3 separate regions of the Homo sapiens genome follow, and regions 2 and 3 are each linked to region 1. Evidence: fine-mapped expression QTL. A gene starts in region 1. Each other region holds a variant in brackets. All regions are shown on one strand. Distances are between the middles of the regions.

Region 1 (2,757 bases):
AGAAATCATGAACCTATTCCCCAGTGGGCAATGATTCCCTGTGCTTCAGAAATTCTTGGCGGCTGTGGGGGCAACCCAGCTGTTATTCACCCTCTGGGTGAGGTGGTGAGACCTCAGGGGGTCCAAAGGATAAAAGTGGGTAATGATGAGACAGATGGAGAGCCTCGAGGGAAATACGGGGACTTGGGTCTAATAGTAGAAAGCAGGGCGGGGGCTGGTTGGTGCATTTAACTTGAGGAACTTTTCAGTCTCACTACAGAGAATGATCTCTGGGGGATTATGGCAATGGCCACAGGTGGCACTTAACTAGAGCCAGGTATGTAAGAGGCCCTGGGGCTAGATATGGATTCGAATCTCGGCTCTGATATCTACCAGCAGTAGAATGCCAGCACGTTCCACAACCTTTCTATAACCATTCTCCTGGACTACTAAGTAGGGATGACAATAACAGTCACTAATTAATAGGGCTGTTATGAGAATTATGAGTCTTAACCCATGTGGTGAGTTCACAAGCGCACCCGGCACGTAGTAAGTGCTCAGTAAATGTTAGCCCCGCTCATTAGGTTAGATGGTGAGCAGAACTTTCCAAGTGCTAGGCTTGAGAGCCTGGGACTCTGTTGCCAAGGGAGATTAGAGAACCTTTGCAAATATGGGCGCTCCGGCCCTGGGGATTGTCCAGAACGAGAGTGTGGCGCCTGCCTTTCTGCCACCTCACTCATCCGACCCGGGGAAACCCACACCCTGTCACAGGGGCGCCTTGGTCCCCGGAGTCTCCGGCTCGGCCATGTCTCCCGCGCGCCTCCCCGGGGCCTCCCTCTCGCCGCTCCACACCTGTCAGCCGCTCTCGCAGCAGCCCTGTGGCCCGAGCCCGGGGCCTCAGCTGCAACCCCTTCGCACCCTGGATCCTCGCTCCGCGCGCCTGGCGTATCCCCGACCCGGCTGCTGTCGTAAACAAAACCGGGCGTTGGAGCAGCACCGCGGGCGGACGGGCGCGGGAGCCCGCTCCGTGCGCCGTTAGCGCGCCCCGGGAGCCCCAGGCGAGCCAAGGGGGCGATGGTGGCGGCCGCGGCGGCCGCGGCGGGCGGCTGAGCTTTGTTATGAATAGATGAAAGAGGCCACCTACACAGTAACCCAAATTACGAGACCTCCCTCCTCCCTATCTCACCGAATCAAGAGGGGAGGGGAGATGGGCGTGGAGGGAGGGCGGGCGGGCGGGCAGGAGGCGGAGGGCGGAGGAGGAAGAGAGGATGAGGAAGGGGGCCAGTTGCATCCCACTTTCACAATGGGAAAGTGAAACGCACAAGCGCACCCAACCTCTCCAGCCCTCCCCGCCCGCCTCGCTCCTCTCCGCCCGTCCCCTCCCTTCCCCTCCGCGCCTCCCCGCGAGCGCCAGCGCTGCACACAGGAACTCTCCGGCGAAGGAGGGCGAGGAGGAAACGGTGCCGGAGCGCGCAGGGCTTGCTGCCGCCACCGCCGCTGCACAGGCTGCCGGAGCGAGCCTGCCGCGCGCCGCCCTCCCCGCTCTCCTTCCTGGGCGAGCTGCGGGGATGGGGCGGCCGCGGGAGCCCGAGCGCGCGCAGGAACCGCCGCCGCCGCCGCCCGCGTCTCCGTTGCCGCGCGCCTGAGCCGCCGTCGCCGCCGCGCGCCCTGCCCGGGGGCGGCCCCCCCAGCCCCATGGAGGTCTCCCGGAGGAAGGCGCCGCCGCGCCCCCCGCGCCCCGCAGCGCCACTGCCCCTGCTCGCCTATCTGCTGGCACTGGCGGCTCCCGGCCGGGGCGCGGACGAGCCCGTGTGGCGGTCGGAGCAAGCCATCGGAGCCATCGCGGCGAGCCAGGAGGACGGCGTGTTTGTGGCGAGCGGCAGCTGCCTGGACCAGCTGGACTACAGCCTGGAGCACAGCCTCTCGCGCCTGTACCGGGACCAAGCGGGCAACTGCACAGAGCCGGTCTCGCTGGCGCCCCCCGCGCGGCCCCGGCCCGGGAGCAGCTTCAGCAAGCTGCTGCTGCCCTACCGCGAGGGGGCGGCCGGCCTCGGGGGGCTGCTGCTCACCGGCTGGACCTTCGACCGGGGCGCCTGCGAGGTGCGGCCCCTGGGCAACCTGAGCCGCAACTCCCTGCGCAACGGCACCGAGGTGGTGTCGTGCCACCCGCAGGGCTCGACGGCCGGCGTGGTGTACCGCGCGGGCCGGAACAACCGCTGGTACCTGGCGGTGGCCGCCACCTACGTGCTGCCTGAGCCGGAGACGGCGAGCCGCTGCAACCCCGCGGCATCCGACCACGACACGGCCATCGCGCTCAAGGACACGGAGGGGCGCAGCCTGGCCACGCAGGAGCTGGGGCGCCTCAAGCTGTGCGAGGGCGCGGGCAGCCTGCACTTCGTGGACGCCTTTCTCTGGAACGGCAGCATCTACTTCCCCTACTACCCCTACAACTACACGAGCGGCGCTGCCACCGGCTGGCCCAGCATGGCGCGCATCGCGCAGAGCACCGAGGTGCTGTTCCAGGGCCAGGCATCCCTCGACTGCGGCCACGGCCACCCCGACGGCCGCCGCCTGCTCCTCTCCTCCAGCCTAGTGGAGGCCCTGGACGTCTGGGCGGGAGTGTTCAGCGCGGCCGCTGGAGAGGGCCAGGAGCGGCGCTCCCCCACCACCACGGCGCTCTGCCTCTTCAGAATGAGTGAGATCCAGGCGCGCGCCAAGAGGGTCAGCTGGGACTTCAAGACGGCCGAGAGCCACTGCGTAAGTCCTGCCCCCGGGGCG
Region 2 (2,757 bases), 120 kb after region 1:
CTGGATCTTGTGATTCTTAACTCTGAGCTTTCAAGGGCTGCTCTTGGGCATTAGAGGGGTGAGATGTTCAGAAAATCTGGGCTGCGAGCCCAAACAGCCTCCTTGAGCAAAGCATTCTGGGTCAAGACTTCACAGTGCTGATTCAAGAGCGTCTCGAGCACTCTGAGTGGTGAGGGGGCGGCTCGGCTCGCCAGGAGGAAGTGGCATCCAGCCAGTCGGCGATACTTTCACTTTCAGTGGAATAATTCCCGCTGGTGCAGGGGTCTGATGTCCCTCCACCAGGTGCTCAAGGGGGTCTGGGACACCGACAGCCCTAGTCCTCCTGTCCTACCCCACAGACGTTTAGTGGGTGACAGTAGCTCCGTGACCGCCAGGTAACTTTCCCTTCCAAGACACCAAGGATTTGTGGGTAAAATAATAATACCATTTATTGAATGTGCCAGACAGCATGCTAAGAGCTTTACCTATCTTTTCTCATTTCATCCCCTTAAGGGTCCTGTGAGCTAAGTGTCTTCATGACCATTTTGTATATGGGGGAACTGGAACACAGAAGAGCTGTGACTCTCCCCAGATCTCACTGCTACTGTGGGACAGCACCAGGGTCCGAGAGCTCTTAGCCACCGCCCTGTGCCCTGAAAAGATGGAATCTGCCCTGGTCTGTTAAAGTGTCGAAGCCTGGCCCCTGGGGGAGGGGAATCACGTACGCAGCGGCTGTGGCTCGCCTAAAAGTTGTGTTTAGTGGTGACAGAGAAACCTCATGGCCCTGTGATTCCCCAAATCAGCCACACATCAGAATCCTCCTCCCCCACCGCCTCCCCGCCCCCGGCCCCGGGAAGGTAATGAAAACTACAGATACCCAGGCCTCATTCTTCAGAGAGATGGCAGCTCTGTAGGTCTAGAGTGGAGCTCAGGCATCTGAATGCTTAACAAGAGCCCGCAAGGGATTCTGGTGATTAGCCAGGGTTAGACCCAGGAGCATGGGCAGAGTGTAGGGCCAGATGTTACTTAGCTCAGTCTAGCTACTCTCCAGAAAGTTCTGGAGAATTCCTGACCACAGGCCTCCTGAGTCAAGACCTGTCCCTTCACACAGCCCCCGAGAGCCCACCTGGCCCCCTGACTCCAACCCCTGCGGGAGTACACAGCCCCTATCCAAGGGTTCTCAGCCTCCCTTCTGATCTGTGCTGGAGGAAAAGAGGTTCTAAGTTTTGTGGTCAGGGCATTACTTGGGGTGGGGGAGGTGGGCGGTGGAGGGAAAGAGAAGAGAAGGGTGAGGTTGTAAA[C/G]CACTAAATAAAGGAAGTTTCTCATGAGAATTAAATGTCATGCACTAGTCCTGCTGCCCTCCCTACCTTGGAAATTTCTGAACTTCCACTTCTGCCCTGCACTGAAGAGGAGACTCAAGGAGGTATCACAGCAGGGATAGAAGCTGCAGGGTGGCAGGAGGTGGCAAGAGGAAGCCCGGGGACTGGGGAGGGCAGATATTCCTGCAGCAAGTATAAAGGAAGGGACAGGGTTGGGGTGGGATGCTGAGAGACTTAAGATGTCTTAGGTAACTTGCCTGCGCAAGGGAAAGCAGGTGAGACCCAGTGGAATCCTCCTTTCCCAGCTGGACGTATCGCTTGTCAAGCTTGACTCTTAACTGGCGCTTCGAGCCCCAGCCACGTGGCTGGCCTTTCGTCATCACTAAGGCACTTTGACTTCCCAGCCACGGTTCTTCCTCCACCACAGAGGCCTAATGTCCATTGATTACGGAAGGTTCGTTATTTAGCAAATACTCTACAGCTGACCCAGGGCTAAGTGCCTTGGGAGGATGCCGTGGAAACAGAACACACCGCCTCCCACTTGAGGTGCTCAGAGTCCTTTGGAATGCAGACATCCGTGTCTGCGAATGTGAGCCATTTCCATCACAGCAGGGGAGGCAGCCCCACCCCCAGCCAGGAAAAATGCATGTGGCTTAAATTTGTAGAAAGAGCCAATCGGGATGGGCCGAGTGTTTGGAGAAAAACCTTAGAGGAAATGGAATTGGCTCTGGTTCAGGGAAGAAGATGGAGTCCCTCTGGCCCAGCACCGGAAAACATGTCCAGGTGGGACTGTGCAGTGTGTGTCTGGGAACTGCCCGGGCCGGGCCTGGCCTGGCCCATGGAGAGGAGATAAGGCTGCAAACTGTTGAACGGCAGGCTGCTTCCTTCGAGAAGTGCTGTTAACACCAAAAAACATTGTATTTGGCAAATGTATAAAATGTTCTTACATTTATCCTTGTTACTAAGGATACTTGTGCATTTTTTTAAATGTCGTTTATTTCTGGCTTGCTAAAGGGTGATTAAATACGAATGTAAACAAAGGTACACTCTCCACATCTAACTGTTCCTAGGCATTAACCCACTGATGAGCATTAGTCTGCCATATGTAAGTTTAAACATAAAATAACAAGGTATACTGTGGGTACTGCACGTCGCTGTGAATGTGCACGCGTGCGCGTGTGCAGATGTGCATTCGCGATGGAGAGAGGAGGCGGTTTTCTGAGTTTTGCATCCAATCCCAAGTGGAGCAACGTGTATTTTCTTGGGCGTTTCATGTTGAGTGTTAGAAAACCCTGTCTCCTGCCTTACTGCTGTAAACAGAAACTTTAATTCTTTGGAAAGTACAGTGGATTCCACAGAAAGCTAACTGTCACTTTTGTGTCTTTTCCAAGGAGACTGTCGGAGAGCCCTTCTATTTGCTGGTGACGACTCTGAACCAGAAAATTAACAAGGGTCCCGT
Region 3 (2,757 bases), 35 kb after region 1:
TGCAGTGAGCCATGATCAAACCACTGTACCCTAGCCTGGGTGATGGAGCAAGACCCTGTCTCAAAAAAAAAAAAAAAAAAAAAAAAAAGGCTGGGCATGGTGGCTCACACCTATAATCCTAGCACTCTGGGAAGCCAAGGCAGGGATCACCTGAGTTCAGACGTTCAAGACCAGCCTGGGCAACATGATGAAACCCCATCTCCACTAAAAATACAAACAATTAGCTGGGCGTGGTGGTGCATGCCTGTAATCCCAGCTACTTGGGAGGCTGAAGAACAAGAATCGCTTGAAACCAGGAGGTGGAGTTTGCAGTGAGCTGACATCACACCACTGCACCCCAGCCTGGGCAACAGAGTGAGACTCTGTCTCAAAAAAGAAAAAAAAAAGAAAGAAGAAGAAAAAGAAATGTGTTATTAATTTAATAAAAATAAATGTGTTATTAATTTATTTTATGTGAAGAATCTAAGACTTGGAGAGGTTAAATAACTTGTTCAAGAATATCTGTATCTATCTATCTATCTATCTATCTATCTATCTATCTATCTATCTATCATCTATCTATCTATCTATAGGTTAGCCTTTGCAGGGCTGTGACAAAAACTCAACCCTGATTCTAAAGCCTCTGATAAATGATATTAAATCCAAAATTTGTGAAAACTGGACATTCCCTGGCTCAGTGGTTTTGACCTATGACCGTTTGAACATGGAAAGTGCAAAGAAGATAATTGAGACTTACATAATTATATAATGGATGTAACAGATACTCTCAGCCCAACCCTGGTTTTCCATTCTTTTCCTTTCAGTCATTCTAAGGAAAATAGCAATGACAGCAATCTACATGTGCTTTTTGAGTCACAGATAAGATGTGCAAGCAATTTGTAGTTTCTGGTATTCTTATAAAGACGATACTGTTCTTTGCACATTGAAAAGTCAGTTATATCAAAATGACCACACTGAGATGGCCACATCTTCCCACAGAGCTTGTAAACCAGTCCTTCACCATATAGAATCTCCTATGCCAATTTGCTTCACCATGCAGACACTTTGTATTATGTTTCTTCCCTGGGGATCCCATCTTTGAAAGACTTTTGTCTACCCAACAAACTGCACATATTAAGTAACAGTTCCCATTCCCAGGGTTTATTTATCAAGGGCGTCTCAAAACTGCCGGTCAGAGTACTGACTGTGTTCCCACATGGAGCTGATAAAATTCCAACCCAAAGCAAAGAAACTTGATATCTTCCTTAATCCATG[C/T]GTGTTTTTCCATTCAGCTGTCTGAAATATTGCAAATAGCTCATAAGCCCCCATTACTTCCTTCATGGATAGTAATGGAACCCCAGAACTCAGGACCCCAGGCTGGGAACCATTATGAAAAGCCACCAGTAGTTGATGGGTTCCCACTTTCTAGAAAGCAAAAAGTTCTAGCCTCTGATCATTCAAAGCCTGAAGTCCTGGGAAGAGTTTTTGACTGGGCATCAAAGCTGGTTAGCCCTGCATTCTTCACTGAGGATTACTGCTAGAGATCCTACTGTTTGAACTCTGGCTGAGCAAATATAACGCCTAAAGAGACAAAGTCCAAGGAAGGCTCTTGGGGAGATAAGAACAGCCAAACTAATAAGCTATGGGATATCCATAAAATGGTATGATACGGGGCCGCTAAAAATAATCATATGGAGATGTAGGCATTGATATGGAATAGTCACTACGGTCTGTTATTAAATTAGAGGGCAGGTCTAATGTAGTATTTTTAGTGTCCTCTCTCTCTCTCTCTTTTTTTTTTTTATGGAGTCTTGCTCTGTCACCCAGCCTGGAGTGCAGTGGCGCAATCTCAGCTCACTGCAACCTCCGCCTCCACAGGTTCAAGCAGTTCTCCTGTCTCAGCCTCCCTAGTAGCTGGGACTACAGTCACACGCTACCATGCCCGGCTAATTTTTGTATTTTTTTTTTTTTAATAGAGACGGGGTTTCACCATACTGGTCAGGCTGGTCTCAAACTCCTGACCTCAGGTGATCCACCCACCTCAGCCTCCCAAAGTGCTGGGATTATAGGCGTGAGCCACCTCGCCTGGCCCTCTCTCATTTTTTTTTGAAACAGAGTCTCACTGTCGCCCAGGCTGGAGTGCAGTGGTGTGATCTTGGCTCACTGCAACCTCCACCTCCTGAGTTCAAGAGATTCTCCTGCCTCAGCCTCCTGACTAGCTGGGATTACAGACGCCCACCACTATGCCCAGCTAAATTTTGTATTTTTAGTAGAGACAGAGTTGGCCAGACTGGTCTCCAACTCCAGGCCTGAAGTGATCTGTCCACCTCAGCCTCCCAAAGTGCTGGGATTACAGGTGTGAGCCACCACGGCCAGCCAGTGTCCTCCCTCTTATACAGAGTTATATTTGTGTGTTTAAATAGACTGAGTAATAGTTCTCAGAGAATGTTCTGGAGACCCATATTCCACAGAATGCTCTGAGCAAAAGTGGTCCCAGAACCAGCTGTTACTTACTATACCCCTCCTGGAATACTGTGAGGCTCAGCATAGTCAAAGGCTCCGAGAAGCCCTGTGCTAAGGAAACCCGTTTTGCTTTTTCAGTCTGAGGTTTTATGTTTGCTGGATCATGGAGCCCTTTTCTTGCATAATAGCAGTAACCAATACTTATTGAACATTTAGTACCTGTCAGACAATAGTTCATAATAACCCCATGAAGTCGTGATCCATTTTACAGATGAGGAAACAAGGTTAGAGAGATTGCATGACACTTATTAAAAT

Evidence for each region. PIP is the estimated chance that this variant, and not a neighbour inherited with it, causes the effect.
Region 2: its variant is fine-mapped to the expression of PLXNC1 in whole blood (TOPMed, PIP above 0.99). The same link has a PIP of 0.9 or more in blood mononuclear cells.
Region 3: its variant is fine-mapped to the expression of PLXNC1 in pancreas (GTEx, PIP above 0.99).

What each region holds. Positions count from the first base shown.
Region 1 is chr12:94,147,298-94,150,054 of GRCh38, forward strand. PLXNC1 (plexin C1) reads left to right here and starts at 1,280. Exons shown (of 31, transcript NM_005761.3): 1 at 1,280-2,736. The coding sequence starts at 1,675. RefSeq lists silencers at 1,047-1,176, 1,187-1,436, 1,507-1,736, 1,867-2,106 and an enhancer at 2,307-2,406.
Region 2 is chr12:94,262,390-94,265,146 of GRCh38, forward strand. PLXNC1 (plexin C1) reads left to right here. Exons shown (of 31, transcript NM_005761.3): 21 at 2,690-2,757. Among named protein-coding and RNA genes, the nearest start is that of PLXNC1-AS1, 87 kb to the left of the region's middle. RefSeq lists a silencer at 819-898 and enhancers at 1,089-1,853, 1,854-2,617. The variant C/G (reference allele first, on the strand shown) is at 1,281.
Region 3 is chr12:94,182,356-94,185,112 of GRCh38, forward strand. The region is part of intron 3 of PLXNC1 (plexin C1); the gene reads left to right. Among named protein-coding and RNA genes, the nearest start is that of PLXNC1-AS1, 7.3 kb to the left of the region's middle. The variant C/T (reference allele first, on the strand shown) is at 1,255.